Linked DNA regions of Homo sapiens. The protein of the gene in region 7 purifies or fractionates together with the protein of the main gene of each other region. This does not show direct contact. Each region holds a gene or a part of one and is shown on either strand. Other genes may lie near its edges.

Evidence for each region.
Region 1: the proteins of ARRDC5 (region 7) and SLC12A2 purify together in Homo sapiens (affinity purification with mass spectrometry; one large-scale study listed by BioGRID and IntAct). This does not show direct contact.
Region 2: the proteins of ARRDC5 (region 7) and CNTN1 purify together in Homo sapiens (affinity purification with mass spectrometry; one large-scale study listed by BioGRID and IntAct). This does not show direct contact.
Region 3: the proteins of ARRDC5 (region 7) and ATP11B purify together in Homo sapiens (affinity purification with mass spectrometry; one large-scale study listed by BioGRID and IntAct). This does not show direct contact.
Region 4: the proteins of ARRDC5 (region 7) and MEAK7 purify together in Homo sapiens (affinity purification with mass spectrometry; one large-scale study listed by BioGRID and IntAct). This does not show direct contact.
Region 5: the proteins of ARRDC5 (region 7) and SLC2A1 purify together in Homo sapiens (affinity purification with mass spectrometry; one large-scale study listed by BioGRID and IntAct). This does not show direct contact.
Region 6: the proteins of ARRDC5 (region 7) and ABCG2 purify together in Homo sapiens (affinity purification with mass spectrometry; one large-scale study listed by BioGRID and IntAct). This does not show direct contact.

What each region holds. Positions count from the first base shown.
Region 1 is NC_000005.10:128,184,766-128,187,471, reverse strand, and holds part of SLC12A2 (solute carrier family 12 member 2), read right to left. Parts: exon of another isoform or gene 2,684-2,706; coding exon 2,616-2,683; intron 977-2,615; coding exon 841-976; 3' UTR 1-840. UniProt on the Homo sapiens protein: Cation-chloride cotransporter which mediates the electroneutral transport of chloride, potassium and/or sodium ions across the membrane. Plays a vital role in the regulation of ionic balance and cell volume.
Region 2 is NC_000012.12:40,936,939-40,940,438, reverse strand, and holds part of CNTN1 (contactin-1 isoform 1 precursor), read right to left. Parts: intron 2,870-3,500; coding exon 2,752-2,869; intron 1,105-2,751; coding exon 954-1,104; intron 1-953. UniProt on the Homo sapiens protein: Contactins mediate cell surface interactions during nervous system development.
Region 3 is NC_000003.12:182,792,086-182,796,303, forward strand, and holds the start of ATP11B (phospholipid-transporting ATPase IF), read left to right. Parts: upstream 1-1,418; 5' UTR 1,419-1,674; coding exon 1,675-1,701; intron 1,702-4,218. UniProt on the Homo sapiens protein: Catalytic component of a P4-ATPase flippase complex which catalyzes the hydrolysis of ATP coupled to the transport of aminophospholipids, phosphatidylserines (PS) and phosphatidylethanolamines (PE), from the outer to the inner leaflet of intracellular membranes.
Region 4 is NC_000016.10:84,501,860-84,506,031, forward strand, and holds the start of MEAK7 (MTOR-associated protein MEAK7), read right to left. Parts: upstream 2,801-4,172; 5' UTR 2,742-2,800; exon of another isoform or gene 2,570-2,741; intron 2,289-2,569; exon of another isoform or gene 2,099-2,288; intron 900-2,098; exon of another isoform or gene 862-899; intron 1-861. UniProt on the Homo sapiens protein: Activates an alternative mTOR signaling through RPS6KB2 activation and EIF4EBP1 repression to regulate cell proliferation and migration. Recruits MTOR at the lysosome, essential for MTOR signaling at the lysosome.
Region 5 is NC_000001.11:42,931,369-42,934,868, reverse strand, and holds part of SLC2A1 (solute carrier family 2, facilitated glucose transporter member 1), read left to right. Parts: intron 1-3,500. UniProt on the Homo sapiens protein: Facilitative glucose transporter, which is responsible for constitutive or basal glucose uptake. Has a very broad substrate specificity; can transport a wide range of aldoses including both pentoses and hexoses.
Region 6 is NC_000004.12:88,152,140-88,155,639, forward strand, and holds part of ABCG2 (broad substrate specificity ATP-binding cassette transporter ABCG2), read right to left. Parts: intron 1-3,500.
Region 7 is NC_000019.10:4,896,397-4,899,896, reverse strand, and holds part of ARRDC5 (arrestin domain-containing protein 5), read left to right. Parts: intron 1-1,811; coding exon of another isoform or gene 1,812-1,935; intron 1,936-3,020; coding exon 3,021-3,226; intron 3,227-3,500. UniProt on the Homo sapiens protein: Plays an essential role in spermatogenesis. May be involved in the anchoring of the sperm head to the tail during spermatogenesis by affecting SEC22A-mediated SUN5 and NDC1 transport and localization.

The DNA.
Region 1 (2,706 bases), on a different chromosome or scaffold from region 7:
TAAATTAGGACAGTTTTCTCTCCAAATAAATATAAATGATCTTGAGTATTTTTGTTTAAAGAATGACGTGATTTTTAAGCATGGTATATAGAAGTATGGGATGAATCTTCAATCTTCCCTAAGGTTTCAATAAATAATAATAAATATAGTAATAATAGCCAATCAGAGGGGTTAAAAAGGTATTTGGGGGGGCTTTTTTTCCTAGCTCTATATTCACATATACTCATATAAACCTTACCATGGGGTTACTTTTTGGTTACCATTTCCCCTTCCCCATTTTTGATTAACCTGCCCTAATTCTCACCTTTAATATCTAACAGATACCTTTATAGAATTAACAAAACACATACAGTACTCAACACTAAATGGTCAATGGAAGAAGACAAGCAGTGTTCATTTTGTTTTAAAGTGGAAGAGACTAGAAATAAAAACAGTTGAAGGCAAAGTTTGACATTCTATAAGTTTATAAAAGAGGATATATGGATGAAATTTGGTTAATTTCAGAAGGCACCTCAAGGCTAAAGGCTTTTTGTACTTCTTTCATCAATCAAAAAGTTAACACGCTTTTATTGCTATTCAAGTAGCAAAGGAAAACTACTCTCACAAACTTCAGTTCAACAGAGAAGAATCACCATTAAGATTGAGATATGGAATTGACTAAAACCGAAGTCTCCATACACGTTATCAATGGAGCAACTTTCCTGTGTGCTTTCAAATTAATGAAATCGTGAAAGAAAAGTCACCATTCGCCATTGTGATGTTAATGTGTCATTGAAGATTTCAGTTACTACACTAGGCACTGAAGTACCATTCTGGAGGGCTGTCCACTGTATAGAACATTTATGAATAGAAGGTAAGGACACTCTGATGATTCCCACGAACTAGGAGGATTGGTGGTAGGTCCTTAGATAGAGCTTCTAACCATGCCATGTAGAGAGCACTAGACACAGCACCTTTTCGTGCAACTGGGAGACTCCTGGTATCAAAAAGAGAAAAAGAAAAAAAAAAAACCCTGAGCAATGCATTTACAGAATAAAATGTAGCAAAAATTATAAAGTAGATTACAATAACAGTTACTGTAAATTACTATAATTACAGAATATTTCTGAGTGCAGGAGAATTCTGCAAATAGAATAACAACCACAGTTGTGTTGCTTAGCGATGGAGACGCATTTCTCAGAACTTACTGTCAGGCAATTTTGCCCTCGTGAAAACATCACAGGAGTACTTACACAAACCTAGATGGTATAGCCTACTACACATCTAGGCTATATGACACAGCCTGTTGCTCCTAAGCTACAAACCTGTATAGTACGTTACTGTAGTGAATACTATAGGCAACTGTAACACGATGGTAAGCATTTGCATATCTAAATACAGAAAAGATACAGTAAAAATATATATATATTTTTTTAAGAGAGATGGGGTCTTAATACATTGCCCAGGCTGGACTCAAAACTCCAAAACTCCAGATCTCAAGCAATCCTCCCACCTCAGTCTCCCAAGTAGCTGAGACTACAGGTGCACACCACCATGCCCAGCTTAACATATGGTATTATAATCTTATGGTACCACCATCATATATGCATATATAAAAGACTATAATCTTTCAACAAAAGATTTTTCAAAATTTGTTCATAAGAACAGTAAGTATTTCTATAAACCACAGTACCTCTGATATCTAACACTAAATCCTAGGTTTCCCCTTCTTTAATAAGAATAGAATTCTTTTAGGTGAAAGGTATGTTTACTATCAAAATTTAGAAAACAGAAGCTATATATGGATAAATGCAATTTTTATCTTCTCTTAGTTTTAATTTCTATTTATGGATGGTGGCAGCAGTGACCAATTGCTGTATAGTTTTTCTCTAAATTTCTATGTTTTGGTGTCTTTTCCATTTACAGGTATTTGATTATCATCAGCAAAACTTGAAACTTTTTGATTTATTGAATGTTGTTAAACTAACAATCTTTTGGTAGTTTTTTTCATTACTTGGCTTTTTTTGTGGGGGAGAGGCCTGAGCTTTCCTATCTAAGGACACATGTTCCAGAACTCAGAAAATGTGGGTTCAAAGAATAGCTAACCTAGTTCAGTAGAGGAAGAGCCAAAGTAGGCATTTAGTATCATATTTAACTCAAGGACAATGTGTCTGTATGTAAAATTTGCGTGTTGGAAACATAAGAATGGGGATCCAGATAGGAATCACTATTCAAGTTTAATCTGCCAAATAACATTTTTTGAATTATTTTCAAGAGGAAGCTGTCCGGGGCCCAAATTTTAACGTAGGACCCTCCTATCCACACGTGCTTAACGGCTATGCTGTAGTGTTTACAAAGATAAGGAATTTTAAAAAGGTGAGAAGAAGGGTAAACAAAAGGTTCCAATATAACCTACTATGATAAAAAGATTACTTGGGATTCATATAAGCATAAGGTTAAAGTTTTTGTCTTTCTCCATATGCTTAAAGCATAGTATATTTTTACAAGTTTGTTTTTTCCTCCTTATAACCACTAAGTCAATATGGGTGTTATATAGATATGTACTTGGAATAGAAATTAATTCAAAGCATATTATCATAAATTAGCAAGAAAATCTTTATAAAGATATTACTTACATGACAATAATATTAGCTGTGCTTGAATGTTCCTTTAATAACTCATTTAACCTGATCTGCCGGTATGTCTGAAATGAAACAGGACAGTCAT
Region 2 (3,500 bases), on a different chromosome or scaffold from region 7:
CCTCCCTTGTTTAAGACTTTAAACAGATTTATATTACTCTTAGATGAAGCCCAAGCCCCTTAGCATAGAAAACTTTGTCATTTATGATGTGGCTTACTATGTCTCATCTCTTAAAAGTCTCCTCCATTTTCCTCTAAAGACAAATCACACTGATTTCAGTTTCTGCAATTTCTTACACATTCTAAACTCCTCACCATAGGGCCTTTGTACATGCTGCCCTCACATTCACATACACCCTCACATACACCCTCACATACACCCTCAAGCCAACCCACACATCCCATCCCTCCCATTTCCCATCCTGGCTTTCTCCTCGTCATAATTTTTGCACTCAATATTACTTCTTCTAGGATACATATAAACTATTCAGTGTGGCTTTTATACAAATAATCTATATAAGTTGTACACTGCTTTTTCATTTTGTCCCCAAACCACCAAAACATTGGTAGATGGTCCATTTATAAGGAAGATGATGATAACATCTTGTTCATTTTGAGATAGGAAGAGATTATTTGCACTTTGAAATCACCTTTTTATTTTTCTACAAAAATATTTAATAGGCTAACTGCACAAAATTCAGTTGAATATGAATGGATATAGATGCCAGATGCCTATACTGGGGAAAAATATGTTAGAGAGATCCTACTTTATTTCCCATTGTTTATTAGCTGTGTGACATTGGGCAATTTATAACAACAAGACAACAAAAAAACACCTCTGAGCTTCAATTTTCTAAATTCCTTATACATTATAGAGTCCTGTTAATTAAACCTTCATTATAATAGATACTGACAGGGATAGGTATTTCTGTCCATCTTAGAACTACAGGATCTTCTGTGAAAAAAAAAATTCAGAGCAAAAAACATTTTCATTATTAACATATAAACAAGTCTTCTATAAAATAAACTTTTTCAAACAGATTTTGCAATTGGATTTCTAGTTTCAGCACTGACCTGCTGCTATTGACAAGCCACTCTGTCCCTTTACTCCATGAAAACTTTGGTTTCGGTGCAGCTTTAGGTTTGCATTCAATTATCACCCTTCCACCTTTAGCAGCCAGGATCTTTTTCTTCATAGGATTCATTTCAAAAGTTGGAGCCAACGCTAAAAAGAAAACAAATTGTTATCTTTCTCTTTCTGTTTGTAAAGCCTAAACATTGCTTCTGTGTTGTAGAATCTTTTATTCTCCTTAATAGTTAATGGAAAGGATTAATCTCGGTAAATATGATCAGCTGTCACCAATAGGCATTCTATACCTAATGCTTTGTAACTTTTATTTAATAACTTTGACTTATAAAATTCACCCAATTCAAATGTACAATTCTTGATGATAACTGAATTGATTATTAGAAACTTTAATTAGAATCCAGGCATGGGTGGCTCACACCTATAATCCCAGCAGTTTCAGAGGCTGAGGTGGGCAGATGGCTTACCCAGGAGTTTGAGAGCAGACTGGGTAACACGGCAAAACTCCATCTCTACCTAAAATACAAAAAAATTAGCTGGGCATGTTGGTGCATGCCTGTAGTCCCAGCTATCCAGGAGGCTGAGGTGGAGGATCACCTGAACCTAGAAGGTCAAGGCTGCAGTGAAGCGTGATCGCCTCACTGCACTCCAGGCTGGGCAACACCGTGAGACCCTGTCTCAATAAATAAATAACTTCAATTTCAATCAAATGTTTTATACACATTTACCTTAAAATTAACTCTGAATTCTGTTGCTTTGACTCAATTCCACAAGGAAAGTAAAGTGAAAGGCTGGAAAAAATTGACCAGCATTATACACACTGACATATGGTCCTAGTCAATCCTCTAAACCACATGTTGAATGAACTATTCCCAGTTTATAAATGAGAAAATTGAAATCTATTAGGATTATTTAATTTGGCAAAGGTACCACAGGTAGTAATAAGTGGGAGTCACATTTGAATCTAGGTCCTTCTGTTTCCAAAGCATGTACTTTTCATTAAACAATGCAGTCTCTCCTTCTTTATACAATTACTGAGCATCATCTGTATGCAAACACCCTGCAAAATGCCAAAATAATTGGAGTCCTGCTTTCAGGATCTATCTATAAACAGCTATGGGAATAATGGATCTAATCAACTAATTAAGGAGACATGATCATTTGTAGTTCATCATTACCTCCAAGTACAGAGCAATAATTATTAGAACAGAATACAGAGGCTTAAAAAAGGTTACTTCATTGATGTCATGCTCAGACTTTCCTCAGCATCCACACATTTAATCCACTGCTCACTCTCCTCTTCCCTTGGCAGACTCCAAGCAGATTTCATCCATATATTTCAACACATTACAATCATCCGTAACTATGTACTTTCTGGAGGCTTTTCTAGGCCTAAGCATATCTTCATCTGGGTTTTGACTCTTCATCCTCTGGTCTGGTCATTCTCAAAATTATCTTTGTATTAAAATCATCTGGGTATCTTTTTAAAGTGTCCATTCAGTAGGTCTGGGGTGAGCCTGGGATTCTGCACTTCTAATGTGCTCCTAGGTATGGCCACTGCTGCTGATGCTCTGAAGAAGACTTTTGTTGTGGCAAAGATTCATTCTATTCCATTGTTTCGTTAGTCTGAATTATGATAATTAGCAATAAATAAATCAGTAAACAACCAACATATGTTGTACACCTAACACAATACTGGGTATTTTGTGTAGGCTCAATAAACATTTTGTGTGATATGACATATTGCTTTAACAATGTTTAACAGAAATTAGAAATGATACTGACCCAAGATCTTCAACTCAGCATTTGCATAAATGGCTCCATATGTGTTTTCAGCTATGCACTGATACATTCCGGCATTTTCAAAAGTCACATCATACAGTCTTAATTCCCCTTTATGATACTGAAAAGAATAAAATTGAAACATATTCTCAATGAACTTTAATAGAAATACTTTCACTTAGGTCTGGGTTTGGTTGTCTTTTCATTTAGATACATTATGTTCATCTGCCCCCACTGTTACCTAAGATGAACTGAGTGGGATTTTCATGGCATGGGAAAGGAAAACCCACTTACCATGCCCAAAGGCTCTTGTTCTATTCATCCTACAGAGCTGAGAGTCCACCTTTTCCCCTCTTGGACCAGCTGGGAGATTACAGTGGGAAGGTAGAGAAGAATCCCACTGCTGCTACTTGTCCCCAGGGCCAAAGGTAGGACTTAGAGCTTCACTCTTACCTCTGTCTCTGTGGGGTACAGGAAAATAGTGGCAAGAAAAAGAGGACAATATCAGGTATTGGAGATGGATGAGTAGGAAGAGGGTGGAAAAGTGGAACAAAGGAAAAAAATAAGGAGAGAGAGAGAGAGAAGGTAGAGTAAGATTACAGAAAGTTGTTTAAACTGAAAGAAGATACTTTATGTTCAGTTTTTGTCTTTTTTAGGAAGCTTTTATATTTCAGGGCCCAAGTGCCCTTTCTGTATTGTCTCTCCTGCTAAATTTATCCCAGGACTACCCTGAAACACTGCTTGAACAGGGA
Region 3 (4,218 bases), on a different chromosome or scaffold from region 7:
AAAGAAAGATTCTATTTGTGGTGCTGGATAAGCATTATATAGTAAGAAATGTCTACTGAAACTAGAAGATTGAGGATGCATATTCAACGACCTGCCTAGTCATGCTAATCTCATTTAGATTTGTTCTTGCTTAATTTTTTTTTTTTTTTTTTTTTTTTGAGACGGAGTCTCCTTCTGCCGCCCAGGCTGGAGTGCAGTGGCGCCATCTCGGCTCACTGCAAGCTCTGCCTCCCGGGTTCACGTCATTCTCCTGCCTCAGCCTCCCGAGTAGCTGGGACTACAGGCGACCGCCACCACGCTCGGCTAATGTTTTGTATTTTTTAGTAGAGATGGGGTTTCGCCATGTTAGCCAGGAAGGTCTCGATCTCCTGACCTCGTGATCCACCCGCCTCGGCCTCCCAAAGTGCTGGGATTACATGGGATTACAGGCGTGAGCCACCGCGCCCGGCCGCTTAATTTTTTTTTTTTTAACCACAAACGTCTGTCGGTGAAGTGTGCTTTAATTCAGCAAAAATACAGCATTCAATACATATACATAACACAATATGTATACGGGGCTGCTTTTAAACAACGCCAAACCTTTAAGTCAAAGCCTTGTTCCAGTTGCTTGTATATTCCTTCTGAGCTTGTCATCCACACACTTTTTTAACCTAGGTCAAGTTACTGCTACGGGTGTTTTTGATTGCAGAAGTTTGGCAGTTAGCAGTAAAGAACTACCTTTTTATACAAATTATCTTCCCCTGAACCTGTCCAATTTAGCACACGGCAAGACAGAATATCTCATCCATTCGCCTAGAAACACGGGTCCAGGCTGTACCAGGCTCAGGGGACTTGCAACGCTTTCGAATCACTTAATGGGTGTGATCAAGATTTCCCTAGCCCCGTCTCAGCCATTTGCTAAAGAAGAGGCCTGACTTGTGTTGAGACGAAAGCTCTTACAGCTTGATGGAACCCAAACTGGGACTTCTGGGGGGATTAACTTTCAGTCACATACGTTCAGGACTGTGCGTATGCGTGTCGGGAGACGCGTGAACCAAAGAAGCCACAGAGCCCGAAAAAGACCTGCAACAGGAGGTAGAGACCGAGGAATCGGCCCCAAGCTGCAGACTCCGGAGATGGCCAGACCCACAGACACGACTTAATCCCACTCCCAGAACGGGGAGGAGGGTGGCAGTGGACAGAAACAGCGTTCGAGAACCCGGCACCTTTCCACGCTCGCTTCTTCCCGGACCCACAACACAGAAACCCCCCAACTCGGAACGGCGGCGGGGCGCGCCAGGCCCCCCTCGGTCCGCGCACCCCCTTTCGTCACGTCCGGGGGCGGGCCGGGGCGCCGGGGGCGGTCCCGGGTGGAGCCGGGGGGCCGGGCGGGGCGGGGCGGGGGTGGGGTTGCGGGGGTGCTTTGGGTGACAACGGTCAATAATGAAGGTGGCTGCGGCGCGGCGGCAGGCTCAGCTGCGCCGGGCGGGGGCGGCGCCGGGGCCGCGCCTGTAGGACTCGGGGCCGACGCCGCGGGATGGGGACGCGGCGCGGGGAGTGAGGCAGTGGCGGCGGCGGCGGTAAGCGGAACTTCGGCCCGAGGGGCTCGCCCGCTCCCGCCTCTGTCTTGTCGGCCTCCACCTGCAGCCCCGCGGCCCCCGCGCCCCGCGGGACCCGGACGGCGACGACGGGGGAATGTGGCGCTGGATCCGGCAGCAGCTGGTAGGTGCCCCCGCCCCTCCACCTCCATTCGTCCGCCCCCGCGGGGCCTCTCGGCCCGGGGTGGCGGGGAAAGGCCGGCGGCGCGGAGCCGGGAGGCCAGGGCGTGGGCGCCCGGCTAGGCCGCAGCGGAGACGGGCGCGGGGCCCAGAGCCGGAGAAGCCCCGTGCGGCTCCCGGGCTCGTCTCGCCTCCAAGCCCGGGCCGCCGAGGCTGGCGCCGAGCGGCCGGAGGCGGCCGCTTCTAGCCGGCGCTTCTCCGTTACTTCTTCCCCCTTGCCGCTCCGGGGCTGCTGTGGCCAGAGGCGGGAGTCCCGAGCGGGGTGGCGGTGCCCCCAGAGGAAACAGGGCGAGGGAGCTGAGCGAGAGTAGGTCTTGGGGAGATGAGAGAGGCGTGCTCTTCCTGCCTCGAACAATTTGGGACGTGTTTGGGTGAAGGGGAAGCGAAGAACCTGTCTTCTGCCCCCACTCGTCACGGACTTCTGGAAGCGTGTCACGATCCAGAGCTGTGTTGATTCCCGAGGAGGAGGCTGTCGTAGGTGTCTAGCCCCCTCAGCGAGAGACGTTTCTCCCCAGGACCTGGAAAGGGGAAAGACTGTGCCAGCTGCCGGTCTAGCTTCGGAAACGATACGTATTGTACGATAGTTACGAACGATACGTACTGTCGTTTCCTTCCTACCTCGTCCTCACCCCACCCCGAGTGAAACTTTTCGAGTGTGAACCTTACTTTTTTCCCGTTCTCCTCAAGGCAGTTTGAACGACACAGGTTTGGAAGGAATAGTTAACTCTCCAGTATTATTGGAACATCTGGACACCACCAACAAAAAATCTTAGAAAAGGGTCATTTAAGGCCTATAAAAAGTGCCACCTTTCCCAGAATTAATTCAGAGAGAAAAATCTTATCTGCCTCCTGGCAGCTACAGCGCAGAAAGTACAGCATTAAGGCAGCTGTGACAATTAGGACAGAAATTGCCCCTGGCTGAAGAAGCCTAACCTTATCTGTGTGATGAGGCCGGTTACTATTTAATTTCTAAATCGCATTAACTTAATGCTTCTACAAGTTGGCGTTTTCATTTACTAATTCTAAAGGCAGTGGTAAAATTTAGTGAAACAGGAACTATTTTTGTGGGACGAAAGCACTGATAACTCTTTTTCCCTTCTGCTCTAGAAAAGCATTTTAACGTTAAGACCAAGAAGTGTGGTGTTTCAGAGCCAGCCTTCTGTTACTTCGTTTTGCAGCGGGCATCATTCTCAAAAAAAAAAAAAAATTATAAATAAGAACTGCCTACCACTCCCTCCTACAAATGTTGGGTCTCTGTTTTTAGCATTGTAAATTCAGATATCCCAGATATATGCTTTATTAGGAAACCAAGCTAATGATGTCATTATAATACCATCTTGTAATACTTTGGCTTTGTTGCAGTAAGCTGTAGCACAGTAATTTTACTCAGAAAGTTAATTATTACAGATTTGATCTTATGCTTTTGATTTGCCAAATCTTCTTGTATAGAGGGCTGATTTACCTGATGGTGTTTTTGTGTGGTAGGAAGATCATTTTAAAGTGGTTCTCTTGAAGCTTTTTTAAAAATGTATTGAGACATCCTTTCTCACTGTTAGGTATTTTTTAGCCAGAATAAAATCCTGGTTGTATAACCATGCTCATCTTCAAGACAGAAAACCTGGTAATGTTTTTTAAAATGGCTTCAAATGAACCCAGCTAAAAGGAAGGGCCGGAAGTTGTGTGTGGTTATTTTACAAGGCAGCCGTCTTAACAGGGATGGTTAACGAGTTGAACAAGTTCCTGTGCATAAAAAATGCTATCTCTGACATTTAGTTGCTCACCTCACTGGTTTTAAGTTATCAGATCCTCTAAGTATGTAATCATACTTGGGCCAATGTAGGACTTTGTGTCTCTGGTTAAGTTTGTATGATCACATAAATTAAACATCAAGGACCCTGGATACAGAGTAATGAAAGTATATTTTGCTATCCCAGTCATAGACAGCTATTCTGATTACTGCACCAGAAATTATTCAACTCAGGTAAAAGCTAGTTTAGATTATACTTCCAGTGGCTTAATGGATTGAATCACCACGACTTTCAGCAATGGGTTTATTTTAAAATGCAGATAACTAGGACAAATTTGGGGAAATTGACAAGCAAATCCTAAGGACAGGTTGGAGTTATAAGCATATTTAATTCGTTATATGAATCCCGATTTTCAACTAATGTCTCACAAAAAAGTCCTTTTATTACAGAAACAATGCCTATGTTCTAGTAATTTCTTTTTAATTAAAAAAAAGTGTGACTCCTTATGACAAAATATTTTCACTACTTGAGAAGATGGAAAAATCAGAAAGTTGACAGAAGCTTGATCTTTTCTATTGGGAAAGTAGGCTGAAAATAAAAAGATTGGAATATCCTTTTTTGTTTTTCTTTTTGGCACACAATGTTAAAGTTACTTGACACTAAGAAAATTCTCTTATGGTGTCTTTGTGGTACAGTTAGTATTATTCAAAGTA
Region 4 (4,172 bases), on a different chromosome or scaffold from region 7:
ATGGCAATGGTGTGGTGGCTCACGCCTGTAATCCCAGCACTTTGGGAGGCCGAGGCGGGTGGATCTCCTGAGGTCGGGAGTTCGAGACTAGCTGGACCAACATGGAGAAACCCTGTCTCTACTAAAAATACAAAATTAACCGGGTGTGGTGGTGCATGCCTGTAATCCCAGCTACTTGAGAGGCTGAGGCAGGAGAATTGCTTGAACCCAGGGGGCGGAGGTTGCAATGAGCCAAGATCATGCCATTGCACTCCAGCCTGGGCAACAAGAGTGAAACTCGGTCTCAAAAAAAAAAAAGACAATGCACGCTGGTGCTGGTGCTGACAGCGCACATCAAGGTTGCTTGTACCAGTGGAGCTCGACTGGAGCAGTTTCGTCCCCCAGGGGCATTTGGCAATGACTGGAAAAGTGTGTGGTTGCCACAACTGGGGGAGGGGAGTGCCGTTGGCATCTAGCAGGCAGAGGCCAGGGATACTGCTAAAAATCCTACAGTGCACAGGATGGCCTTACGACGAGGAAGTGTCCGTCCCAGACATCGGTAGGGCTGAAGGTGAGAAAACCTGGCTTCTGAGGATGTAGGGCAGCGGAACAAAATGGAAGCGGAACTTGATACAAGGGAACCCACAGAAGTCTCGAGGCCAATGTAGGGTTGTGTTATGCACAGCTTTGCAGAGAAGAGGCCACCCCATGTACCCAGGTGTACTGTGAAAGTCCCATGACACCGAGAAAACTTGCCAGGGACTGAAAGCTTTCCATCATCAAGCCTATAATCCCAGAACTTTGGGAGGATCATTTGAGGCCAGGAGTTTGAGACCAGCCTGGGCAACATAGTGAGACTTCGTCTCTGCCAAAAATACAAACCTCAGCCGGGTGTGGTGGCGTGTGACTATAGTTCCAGCTATTCAGGAGGCTGAGGTGGGAAGATCGCTTGAACCAGGAGGCAGAGGTCGCAGTGAGCCAAGATCACAACAGTGCACTCCAGCCTGGGTGACAGAGCAAGACTCTGTCTCATAAAAACACAAACAAAAGTTCCAGCAGCCCATAATAAGTGACCAAGATGTTTTGCTTGACCAGACTTTAGTCAGGCTCCTGGGCCCATCTGTGTACCTCTTTGTAAAATCTGGTTTTAGCAAAACAAAAAACAAACAAACAAAAAAACCCACAAAACCACTCATCCTTGATATTTGATCACCATTATCTGTTCACTTGCTATCTAACCAGGTTTAATGCTTAGGTTAGGGATATCCAATCTTTCAGTTTCCCTGGGCCACACTGGAAGAACTGTCTTGGGCCACACATAAAACCCACTAACAATAACTGATAAGTGCATATATCTACATATATGGTAAAAAAAAAATCTCATGTTTTAAGAAAGCTTATGAATTTGTGTTGGATGTCATTCAAAGCCGCCTTAGGCCACATATGGCCCACGGGTTGGACGAGCTTGCCCTAGGTGATGTCTGATCACCCTGGCCTGCCTTCAGTAACAAACTGCTAGGTAAGCTTACCCAGAATCCACCCTAGCGCCCTGATGTTTCCTCAGTCATCTTCCATCCACTGATCCCCACCCTGCTTCCTGGCTTCCCACTTGCCCATGCTATAATCAGAGTTGAGCCCAATCTCTCTCCTTTACTACAAAATCCCATTGCTGTGGTCCCTATACCCATTGCAATGGTCTTCAATAATTAATGTGCTTTTAATAAGCATCATTAATTAATTTCTTTAACATAAGGTTGAGAAGATTAAATAAGGTAACCCAGGGCATTTGATCTGCTTACTGGAGGTCAGAGACAGAATAATGGGCCCAAGACAACAGAGAATGGCTCCTTGGGATCTTGTCTTAGAACAAGAGAAACTGCCCTGCTTGGAAGAAACGGAAGGTTGCTCTGCCTCCGTGATGGAGGGGTGGACAGGGACCGATTGTCTGCAGGATGGCCCCCAAGGTTCCCACTAGTATCCTAGGAATGGCTTAGTCACCTCCTGCTCAGAGCTTCTCCAACAGGCTGTTACATGGCTGCTTCCCACCCTGGCTGCCAAGCTCCAACTCTCTACTCCAAGGGCCCCGCATCCCTAGAGCCACACAAGGGTCCCTCCGTACCCCCACAAGCTGGGGAGATTCCAACTGCCTCATCTGGACAGGCTTCGAAGTCCTGTCTGTGTCTCAGAGCCCAGAGGCCCTTGTGCGAAGGGGCAGCTTGAGCCTGGGCAAGAAGTTCCTGTGGGCCAGAAGGTGACCTGTCCTGTGCTGGCCACCTACATGGCCTGGGAACAGTTATCAGCTCACTGTCCTGGAAAAGCCCAGATGGGTGTGGTCAGAATACAAGAAGGAAAACCCCCTCCACACACACTTCAGTGTCTACCCCAGACTCGCCTCCTCCGTGGAGGCACCCCTCCCTTTCCGCGTCTACACAGGCTCTGAATCCCCCTTCAACACGGCTGGCCTTGGCCCTGGGGGAAGCACCTCGCCACCCTCTTACCTTGACCACATAAACAGCGGGAGGTGCAGGATGATTCTGATCCCCCCCAGGAGACCCTCCCTCCATCCCGCCCCGCTGTCCCCACCCCTCACCTCCCCGCAGCCTTCACCTCTCCCTCCCCCGACCCGAGGGCCTGAAGAGGCGTGGGAGGCCAGGGAGGGGCAGGGCCCAGGCCTACTCTGGACCCGTCTGCTCCAGTCCCCCGACTCAGCTGGGCCTGCGCCTCTGGGTCAGCTCACTGCGAACCTCAGCCCAGGTACCTACCCTGCCGGGCTTCCTGGTGCTGTCCGGTCCGGTCCAGCAGCCCACGGGCTCCTCTCGAGAGCCGCCCCTTCCCTGTTGCCAGGCAACATTGCTGAGGGGCAGTCATTTGGTCCAATCGTGGAAGCGGAGGTGTGGGGCGGAACCCAAGAGAGGAGTCAGCCAATGGTGACGCGCCTCACAGGGAGTGAGCCGAACCCGGTGGGTGCGGCTCGGGGCGGGGCCGCGGTCTGCGGGAGGAGCGGCTGCAGGCCCGGGAATCCGGCCCGGCTGCGTGCGTACCAAGGAGGCGCCTGGAGAGGGCGGCCAATGACTCAGGCCAGGCCAGGCCAGCAGTGGTACCTGGGGAGAAGGGGTGTCTGGGCTGGGCGCTGGAGCGGAGTAGCCAGGGTGTGGGAGATCCTGGGGGAGAGGCTGAGCTTGGGGGTGAAGACACCCGGGGGAGGAGAGTGGCCCATGTGGAGCCCATGCAGAGGCCTCTGCAGTGCAGCCTCCTGGGCCCCAGGCAACTCTCCCCTGACTCCCCGGCCTGCTGGTCCTGGCCTAGAGCCTCGGGTCCGCCTCCCCTCGGGCCTCCCTCTGCCAGCTGCCCCTGCCTCGCTCTTCCCTGGCACCAGGTCCTTCCCGGCAGCCATCAGGCGCCAGCTCCACAGCCTGGCTAAACAGACTCCCTCCACCCCACGTGCGCCTCTTCAGCCGGTTCCCGTTCACTCCAAGACGTCTGAACCTGTCACCCCACTTCTTCAGCTCGTTCCTTCTCAAACCCACCGAAACCTGGTCCCGGGGGCCTGCTCACTACATCCGAGGTGCGCTTTGGGTCCTCGCAGGCAGCATTTGGCGCTTGGTGATCGTGCTCTCATCAGACCTCTCTCTTGGGCACCCCGGCGCCCATTCCTGGCCCTGGCTCGCTCGCTGTCCCTGGTGGTCTTCCCTGGGCCCTTCTGGCTTCTGCCCTGGAGTTTCTCGACTTCTCCCTACTCTCTCCACCCCACGCATCCTCCCTGGGGTCCACCTTCCTGCAGATTCAGCTCCCGCATGTCCATGGTACCAGTTCTCTCCCCTGCACGGCCTGCTGGTTTTCCAGCCTGGAAAACCGTGACTTCGCCCGCCAACGTCCGCTTGAGTTGGTCTCGAACTCCTGACCTCAGGTGATCTGCCTGCCTCGGCCTCCCACAGTGCTAGAATTGTAGGGGTTAGCCACTGCACCCGGCTGGTCACCTCTTATTCTTTAAGCTGGAACAAAAATAGAAGGCTTTCTGCCTGAGGGCAGCAGGCCTGGCTGGTGACAGTGCACAAGGTAGGGCCCCTCACCAAGACATTGCTCTGAGATCCAAGGCCAATGTCCCAGGAGAAGCAGCTCCACAAACTAACGCATCTACAGCCAGGGTACCCCCAGCTGTGGATGCCAATGACACGAGTAGCCCCAGCTCTTCA
Region 5 (3,500 bases), on a different chromosome or scaffold from region 7:
GAAGTAGGACAGACTCGGAGGCAGAATCGAGAGGACCTGGTGATGGATGGATGTGGGGTGGTGGCAGCATCAAGTGTTTAAATCCTAAGCTTGGGACGGGCATGTGAGGTGGGAGCGTTCAGAACAGGCACGTGCCAGGTCTCACCTCACACATGACCCAGGGTTGCGGAGGCTGCTGGGAGCCGGCGGGATTGGGCCTGTGGGATCCTGTCAGGGCATAATAAGTAGACTCTTCTTTCCTGAGGTGCACCCAGACACTTCTAGGGAGGATGTGACCCCAGAGCTTTTCCCCATGTAGGGTTCTTCTCATTCTCCAGCATCCCCCTGCCTTTCCTGGGCCAAGAGTCAGCGTGGAACCCCATACGAATCCCCAGGGAGGAGAGGGCACAGAGCACCGGAACCAGCAGTAGGAATTGGAAAACCAGGCGTGGCTTCTTCCCAGAAATCTCAGGCATCAAGAGGCAGAAACCCACTCCCCAGCCTCAGCTTGGCCAGGAAGTGCTGCTGTGGGCTGGAGAGGATGGGTCTAGGCCAAGGTGAACATGCAGAGAGCTGGCTGCTCACCCTTCCTCCACCCCATAAAGTGGTCTGAGTAACAGAGCAGCTAGGCAGCGTCCAGGAGCCAGCCCTGGACAAGGTTGGGTCCCTTTGACTGTGTGACCACAGGCAGGAGACGTAACTCAGGGTGGAGCTCTGGTCACACCTCACTTACACACAGCCCTCTTGTCAGTTGCCCCAACATCTCAAGAGATCTTCAAGCTTATTTAGGTAGTTTCAAGCCTTACTTAGCACCTATTTACTCTTTCTTTGTATACAATTCAAACAAATTCCATTTGCTGACTTCTTGGCAAATTTCAAAAGAGGTGTGGAGAGTTGTACAAGACAAGCCTCTGAACCACAGAGGGTTGGGGGAATACCTTAGAACTATGGAATGCAGAAATTTAGCCATCAGGAGCCAGTCTGCACAGGGACAAACACCTCTCCTTGCCCCTGGAGAGAGCCCCAAGGGCAGACACCATTGCCCTGCAGCCCTGCTTGTAGGTCTGGTTGCTCAGGAGAGCAAAGTGAAATCTCTTCACATTTTCACCCCATAATGGGTCAGGAAAGATTGGACCCTCAGAAGGGCAAGCGCCATTTATCTGGACCGTTCCCATATCCACCCTCATTCAGAGCAGCCTGTTCTTGGTGGAGCCTGATAAACGGGGCATTACCGTTCCCAACCAGTCCTCCTCTGGGGTTAGTTTCGTCCACAGAAGAACACTTTGCATTTTGTTACTCTGTTTTTTGTCAAAATCTGCCTTCTGTCTGCCCCCAGCAGAATCAAGGGGTTCTAAGAGGAGAGCCTAACACCTTTGGTTCGATTCCTCCATTTCCTCACCAGGTATCCCTGGCACTGGCTCTGGGACAGACCATGGTGTGAATCAACTGTCTTCCTCAGGGAAGACAAACTCCTGGAGTCAGGGAAACCTGGATCTCGAAAGGTTTCAGCAATAAGGCCAGGGGTACCTTCCAGGCAGGAGTAGTAGCATCTCAAAGGCGTAGAGGGGTGGGAGATGGTGTGTAGTGAGTGCAAAGGTGTGGTAGGTAGGGAGATTGGATTGATACCTGGCAGGAGCCCCGATTTTGAGTTACGGGTTGAAGGCTTGGGGAGACTCTGTTAGTGGTCTGCACAGCCTTCAGGCCACCAGTGTGCAGTGGGGTGATTTTAGGGATGATGACACCAAGCACTGTTTCACTGATTCCCTGCAGCACTGTGAAGCAGCTCCTGCTAATGTCTGCACTTTAGAAATGGGGCCATGGAAACTCACAGATGAAATAACTTGCTCATGGTCACACTGGAAATAAGGGGTGGAGCTAGGACCTGAATTTAGTTGTGTCCAGAATCAGAGTTCAGGTTTCTATTCACTGCCCTGCATGGCGTCCTTGGAACGGACAAGCAGATCCTTAGGGCTTGCCTCTGCCCTACCAACTGTCCTCGCCCCTTGGAGCCTGGCCTCCATCAGATGCCTGCTGACTTGGGACAGGTTGTGACAGGGCAGGGGAAAAGATGGCTAGAGGCTGAGCACCCACAGCAATGGGAAGGAAGGCACCAGGAGGCAGGCCCAGCATATTTGAATAGGTGGGCATTTCTGGGACTGCAGGCTTTGGTTTGGCAAGTGTGCCTGCCCACACCTTCTTCTTCTGCTAGACCTCAGTGGGTTGGAAGGGATAGGGAGGACCAACAGCAGTGATGGAGGCTGCAGAGGCTGCATACCGCTGTGTGTGCATGAACCTGTGGCATGCACACACACGGAGGGGTGTTGGGATGGGTTGGGTTCACATGGAATTGAGTTTGAGCTGTAAGTGGTAGGGGATGAGGGGCATGTGAGTTTGTGACTGGCTAAAGCAGGAATATTTAGATTCTATGAGCACGGGTATGTGTGTGTGATGGTATACGTGCATAAGAAGCCGTTTCTGGGTAACTAGGGCCTGCACTCTGCTATACGTGTGGCTGGGTGGGTCTGGCCAGTCCCATGGCACTGAGAGTGTGGTGAGTGTGCTCAGGCAGAACGGGTGCTGCCTGCCTACCACATCCGTGGGAGCTGGCCAGGGTGGGGGCAGGGCTGGTGGGCAGGGCTGCCCTAGGACGGGCGTTTCCAGTTCCTGGAACTGCTTCCTTGTGTGGAACCTTTCCCCATACCTCCTAGCTGGGCCCTTGGGAGAGGGGAGGAGGCCGTGGGTCCTTCAAGGGGGTGCTCGCAGGCCAGACACAAGGGAGCTAGGCCTGGGGAACAGAAAGCCACAGCGTGAGTCTTTCAAGCACTTCTGAAGGGTGACATGTGTGAGTTTGTCACACCAGGCCCTCAGTGCGGTCAGGGAGTCTGTACTTCCTGGATGGCGGAACCTGTCTGTCAAGCCCTGCTTCCTCCCCAGCAAGGGGTTGGGGGGAGGGCCTGATGGCAGGAGATGGGCCCCTGGGGCTTTGAGACATGGTGAGGAGAAAAGGGGCAAGTGGGAAGACCCTTTTCCTTCTGTATTTCTCTTTTTTTTTTTTTTTTTTTGAGACATAGAGTCTCACTCTGTCACTCAGGCTGAAGTGCAGTGGCACAGTCTTGGCTCACTGCAAACTCCGTGTCCTGGGTTTAAGCAATTCTGCCTTAGCCTCCCGTGTAGCTGGGATTACATGCTTGCGCCACCACGTCCAGCTAATTTTTTTTTTATTTTTAGTAGAGATAGGGTTTCACCATGTTGGTCTGGCTGGTCTCGAACTCCTGATCTCCAGTGATCTGCTTGCCTTGATCTCCCAAAGTGCTGGGATTACAGGCGTGAGCCACCACACCTGGTCTTGTACCTCTCTGTTCTATGCCTGAACTTCCACCACTGATCACTTGCCATCATCCCAGCAAGTCACACTGAGCCTGTGAAACCACAGGGCACTGGAAACCACACGTTAGGGGAAGTGGGAGAGTTGGCGGGGCTCTCAGATGAACTCCAACCCCTTGTTTCTCGCCTGGGGAAAG
Region 6 (3,500 bases), on a different chromosome or scaffold from region 7:
ATAGAAGCTCACATATGCATTATTTGTTTTGGAAGCACTGGCAGGGTTTCATTTGAGAAAAAAATGGGAGCTTTAAAAAATTACTAAATACTACCAATTTTACTTCTTTCCCATAAGAGACTGAATCCAAGTTGGCAAATACAGTCAGGTCCTCTATAATGTTTAAACTTTAAGGCAATATGAATTTTCACTCGCGTCCGTGTGAAGAGACCACCAAACAGGCTTCGTGTGAGCAATAAAGCTTTTTAATCACCTGGATGCAGGCGGGCTGAGTCCGAAAAGAAAGTCAGCAAAGGGAGATAGGGATGGGGCCATTTCATAAGATTTGGGTAGGTAAAGGGTAAAGGGGGTTTGTTCTCTGGTGGGCAGGGGTGGGGCGTCACAGGGTGCTCAGCGGGGGAGCTTTTGAGCCAGAATGAGCCAGGAGAAGGAATTTCACAAGGTAATGTCATCAGTTAAGGCAGGAACAGGCCATTTTCAGTTCTTTTGTGGTGGAATGTCATCAGTTAAGGCAGGAACCAACCATCTGGATGTATATGTGCAGGTCACAGGGGATATGATGGCTTAGCTTGGGCTCAGAGGCCTGACATTCCTGTCTTCTTATATTAATAAGAAAAATAAAACAAAATAGTGGTAAAGTGTTGGGGTGGTGAAAATTTTTGGGGGGTGGTATGGAGAGAGAATGGGTGATGTTTCTCAGGGCTGCTTCAAGTGGGATTAGGGGCGGCGTGGGAACCTAAAGTGGGAGAGATTAAGCTGAAGGAAGATTTTGTGGTAAGGGGTGATATTGTGGGGTTGTTAGAAGAAACAATTGTCCTATATAAGTATTGGTGATGGCCTGGATACAATTTTGTATGAATTGAAAAAAGAACGGAATAAGACAAGGAGAAAAACAGGTATTAAAGGACTAAGAATTGGGAGGACCCAGGACATCCAATTAGAGAGTGCCTAAGGAGGTTCAGCATAGCCCTGCCAGCAAAGATGATTTATTTACTTTAAGAGTTGAGAGTGGCGGTTTGGGGATAGCACCAGGAGATATCAGCTGTGGTGGCTTGGAGAAACAGTGTAAACCGGCAGTGTAAACAAGAGCGGGCATGTATGAGTAGTTGAGAATGGTGAATAGGAGTATGACTAGACAGAAGATAGTAGGGATGACAAGTTTTTGGGGGCGCAGTCCAAGTTGGTCTGGTGTCTGGAATGAGACTGGGGCCTAATAAAAAGGAGCATCTATACAGGAGCTCAAATGGGCTGTATTTTGTCGCATTCCGAAGACAGGCCCGAATTCTGAGAAGGGCAAGTGGTAAAAGTATTATCCAGTCCTTTTTAAGTTGGTGGCTGAGCTTGGTGAGGTGTGTTTTTAAAAGACCAGTAGTCCGTTCTACCTTTCCTGAAGATTGAGGATGGTAAGGGATATAAATGTTTCACTGAATACCAAGAGCCCGAAAAACTGCTTGGCTGATTTGACTAATAAAGGCCGGTCCTCTATTGAACCGTATAGAGGTGGGAAGGCCAAACCAAGGAATTATGTCTGACAGAAGGGAAGATATGACCGTCGTGGCCTTCTCAGACCCTGTGGGAAAGGCCTCTACCTATCCAGTGAAAGTGTCTACCCAGACCAAGAAGTATTTTAGTTTCCTGACTCGGGGCATGTGAGTAAAGCTAATTTGCCAGTCCTGGGCAGGAGCAAAACCCCGAGCTTGATGTGTAGGGAAGGGAGGGGGCATGAGAAATTCCTGAGGAGTAGTAGAATAGCAGATGGAACACTGAGAAGTGATTTCCTTGAGGACAGATTTCCACGATGGAAAGGAAATGTTCTAAGAGGCAGGCTAGCGGCTTGTAACCTACATGGAAGAGGTTATGAAATGATGACAGAATAGAATGGGCCTGTGAGGCTGGAAGGAGATATTTTCCTTGGTCTAAGAACCATTTGCTTTGTGTGGGAAGAGATTGATAGGTGGAAGTTTCAGTGGGGGAGTAGGTGGGAGTGACCAATGCGAAGAAGAAAAACTGACCCTGAGGGACAGAAGTTGGAACACTAGTTGCTTTTTTAGCTAACTTATCAGCATAAGCATTGTCCTGAGCGATGGGATATGATACCTTTTTGATGGCCCTTGCAGTGAATGACTCCAGCTTCCTTTGGAAGTAAAGCGGCTTTGAGAAGCGTTTTTATTAAAGAAGCATTAATGATAGAGGACCCTTGTGTAGTGAGGAAACCTCTTGCATAGTGGTGCAGGATATGGAAGGCATATTTAGAGTCAGTATAAATATTGATGTGTAGTCCCTTTGCAAGAGCAAGGGCTTGACTTCAGGCAATGAGTTCGGCTTGCTGAGCGGTAGTGGAGGGGGGCAGAGTGGTAGCCTCAATGATAGATGTGGAAGATACTATAGCATAGCCTGCCTTTGCTGGTGAGTGGCAATTAGGACTGGTGGAACTGCCATCAGTAAACCAAGTGTTCAGGGTGAGGAACAGGAAAGAAGGAAATATGCGGAAATGGGGTGAATGCCCGGTGGATCAGAGAGATAGTCATGGGGGTCAGGTGTGGTATCAGGAATAATGTGGGAGGCCGGATTGAAGTCTGGGCCAGGAACAATGGTAATTGTGGGAGACGCAACAAAGAGTGAGTATAGCTGGAGGAGCCGGGGAGCAGAAAGTATATGTGTCAGGTGTGAGGAAGAAAATAGATTTTGGAAGTTATGAGAGCTGTAGAGAGTGAGTTGAGCATAGTTTGTGATTTTGAGGGCCTCTAAAAGTATTAGGGCGGCGGCAGCCACTGCACGGAGACATGATGGCTAGGCTAAAACAGTAAGGTCAAGTTGTTTGGACAAAAAGGCTACAGGACGCGATCCTGGTCCTTGTGTAAGAATTCTGACTGCACAGCCCTGCACTTCGGCTGTGTGTAATGAAAAGGGTTGGGATGAGTCAGGGAGAGCTAGGGTGGGGGGCAGTCTCTAAAGCTGTCTTGAAGGAATGGAAAGAGGAGTGGGGAAAGGATTTAGGATCTATGGGGTCAGCTAGGTTTCCTTTTGTGAGTTTATATAATGGCTTTGTTAGGATGGCGAAACCAGGTATCCAAAGTCGAAAGTATCCAACCATGCCTAGGAAGGAAAGGAGTTGTTTTGTAGAAGGTGTTGGGGTTTGAGAGATCAGTCAGACACGATTGGCAGGGAGAGCACGTGTGTTTTTATGAAGAATTATGACAAGATAGGTAACAGATGAGGAAGAAATTTGGGTTTGACTGAAGTAATGGGGGCTGTCTGTGAAGCCTTGAGGCAGTACAGAGCCAGGATGAGCCAGAAGGAGGAATTTCACAAGGTAATGTCATCAGTTAAGGCAGGAACCAGCCATCTGGATGTGTAAGTGTAGGTCACAGAGGATATGATGGCTTAGCTTGGGCTCAGAGGCCTGACACCAATCTTTTCAGACTTAGCATTTGCTAAGTCACAAACTTTTTATTATACATAAAAAGTTCAAAAGTAACTCTAGGCCGGGCACGGTGGCT
Region 7 (3,500 bases):
TGCAATCTTGGCTCACTGCAAGCTCCGCCTCCCGGGTTCTCGCCATTCTCCTGCCTCAGCCTCCTGAGTAGCTGGGACTACAGGTGCCCGCCACCACGCCTGGCTAATTTTTTTTTTTTTTTTTTTTTTTTTGTAGAGACGGGGTTTCACCGTGTTAACCAGGATGGTCTCGATCTCCTGACCTCATGATCCACCCGCCTCGGCCTCCCAGAGTGCTGGGATTACAGGCGTGAGCCACCGCGCCCGGCCGCTAGTTCTTTTTTTAAGAGACAGTCTTTACTCTGGCACCCAGGCTGGAGTGCCATGGCGTGATCTCAGCTCACTGCAACCTCCACCTCCTGGGTTCAAGCAATTCTCCTGCCCCAGCCTCCTGCATAGCTGGGATTACAGGCGCATGCCACTATGCCCTACTAATTTTTTGTATTTTTAGTAGACACAGGGTTTCACCATGTTGGCCAGGCTGGTCTCAAACTTTTGACCTCAGGTGATCTGCCCCACCTCAGCCTCCCAAAGTGCTGGGATTACAGGCATGAGCCACCATGCCCATCCCAGGTTTTTCATTTATTTAATAAACATTTTTTTTTTGAGATGGAGTCTCACTCTGTCGCCCAGGCTGGAGTGCAGTGGCGCGATCTCGGCTCACTGCAAGCTCCGCCTCCCGGGTTCACGCCATTCTCCTGCCTTGGCCTCCCGAGTAGCTGGGACTACAGGCACCCGCCACCACGCCCAGCTAATTTTTTGTATTTTGTTTATTACAGACGGGGTTTCACCGTGTTTGCCAGGATGGTCTCGATCTCCTGACCTCGTGATCTGCCCGCCTCGGCCTCCCAAAGTGCTGGGATGACAAGTGTGAGCCACCATGCCTGTTCCAGGTTTTTCATTTATTTAATAAACATTTATTGAGTGCCTACTGTGCACAAACACCGTGCTAGGTGCTGGGGATGCAGCAGTGATGAAAAAAACACAGCCTGGGCCGGGCACGGTGGCTCACGCCTGTAGTCCCAGCACTTTGGGAGGCTGGGTGGGCAGATCTCCTGAGGTCACAAGTTCAAGACCAGCCTGACCAACATGGCAAAACCCCATCTCTATGAAAAATACAAAAATTAGCCAGGTGTGGTGACACGCGCCTGTAGTCCCAGCTACTTGGGGCGCTGAGGCAAGAGGATCACTTGAGCCCAAGAGGTCCAGGCTGAGTGACAAAGTGAGACCCTGTCTCAAAAAAAAAAAAAAAGGCCAAGCCCGCCTGATGGCTTATGCCTGTAATCCCAGCCCTTTGGGAGGCCAAGGCAGGTGGATTATCTGAGGTCAGGAGTTCGAGACCAGCCTGGCCAACATGGTGAAACCCCATCTCTACTAAAAATACAAAAATTAGCCAGGCATGGTGGTACACACCTGTAATTCCAGCTACTCAGGAGGCTGAGGCAGGAGAATTGCTTGAACCTAGGAGGCGGAGGTTGCAGTGAGCCAGGATCACGCCACTGCACTCCAGCCTGGGTGACAGAGTGAGATTCTGTCTCAAAAAAACAAAAAAGAAAGAAAGAGACAGGGTCCCTAGTATCTTTGGGATTGCCATGGGCCAGAGAAGATAGAAAATGCTAAGAGGATTTTCGAGAAGTGCAAGAAGGAAAATGAAACAAAGGTCATGGAAATGGCAGTTGTGTGAGAGTCTGCTTCCTAGACCATCACTCAGTTGGTCAATCAATATGTATTAAGCACCCACTGTATACCATGCACTGAAGGTCAAGCTCTATGAGGGCGAAAGTTTTCTCTGCCTCACATACTACTTTGTTTATTTATTTATTTATTTTTAGAGATGGCGTCTCGCTCTGTCACCCAGGCTGGAGTACAGTGGCATGATCTCGGCTCACTGCAACCTCCGTCTCGCACGTTCAAGCTATCCTCCCACCTCAGCCTCCTGAGTACCTGGAACTACAGGTGTGTGCCACCACACCCGGCTAATTTTTGTATTTTTAGTAGAGATTGGGTTTCGCCATTTTGGCCAGCTTGGTCTCAAACTCCTGACCTCAGGTGATCCGCCCGCCTTGGCCTCCCAAAGTGCTGGGATTGCAGGCGTGAGCCACTGGGCCCAGCCAGTTTGTGCCTATTATCCCAGCACTTTTGGGAGAGTGAGGCAGGAGGACTGCTTGTGGCCAGAAGTTCAAGACCAGCCTGGGAAACATAGCAAGACCCTGTCTCTACCAGAAATTTAAAAATTAGCCAGGCATGGTGGCATGGGCCTGTAGTCCCAGCTCTTCTGGAGGCTGAGGTGGGAGAATCACTTGATCTCAGGAGTTGGAGGCTGCAGTGACCATGATCACACCACTGCACTGCAGCCTAAGCAACAGAGCCAGACTTTGTCCCTACAAAAAGAAAAAAAAAGATATATTTGTTGAACCCTGAAGGCCTGACTTCCACTTTCTCAGGCTCAGGGCAGGGATATGCAAGAGCCCTTCAGTGGTTTCGGGTGACAACTCCAGGCATGTCACCCACCCCAGGGCATCCCACTCCAGCCCAGCTGCGACCTGATATTTATAGGCCCAGCAGGTCCTAAAAGCATAGAGCTCAGTTTAACTCAGGAGGGACAGACAAGCCAAGCCCAGGACCCACCTCCATGCCAAAACAATAAATCAAGCAAAAAAAGGCCAGGTGCAGTGGCTCACGCCTGTAACCCCAGCACTTTGGGAGGGCAAGACGGGCGGATCGCCGGAGGCCAGGAGTTCAAGACCAGGATGGACAACATGACAGAACCCCATCTCTGTCAAAAATATAAAAATTAGCCAGGTGTGGTGGTGCACGCCTGTAGTCGCAGCTACTCAGGAGGCTGAGGCAGGAGAATCGCTTGAACCTAGGAGGCAGAGGTTGCTGTGAGCTGAGATCACACCACTATACTCCAGACTGGGTGACAGAGTGAGACCGTGTCTCAAAAATAAATAAATATAAAAATAAAGCAAAAAAAAAAAGAAGAAGAAGGAAAAAAGATTCTAGAACCTTCTGATGGCATCGGTGTGTTTTGCTTTCAGATAATTGGTTAAGTGCAGGCAGCCACACCTTTGACTTCCATTTCAACTTACCTCCCAGGCTTCCTTCTACCTTCACCAGCAAATTTGGCCATGTCTTCTATTTCGTACAAGCTTCCTGCATGGGCAGGGAACACATTTTAGCCAAGAAGAGGATGTACTTATTGGTTCAAGGAACTTCCACCTTCCACAAAGAAACCCCATTCCAGGTACCGATGGGGGAAAGGTGGAGGTGGGAACAATCTCCAAGCTCCAAGGAGGAAGAGGGAAGGTGGGCAGGCAGGGGACAGAGAAGGTCCCATGGGGAGAAGGGAAGGGTGTTGGCAGCTTCCCAGGCCCCGAGATTTCACAAAAGGTGAGTCAGAAACCTTAGGGCAGCTGGAGGTCAAGGCTGCAGTAAGCCATGTTTGCACCACTGCACTCCAGCCTGGGCGACAGAGTGAGACCCTGTCTCTAAAATAAAATTATATATATGTGTGTGTG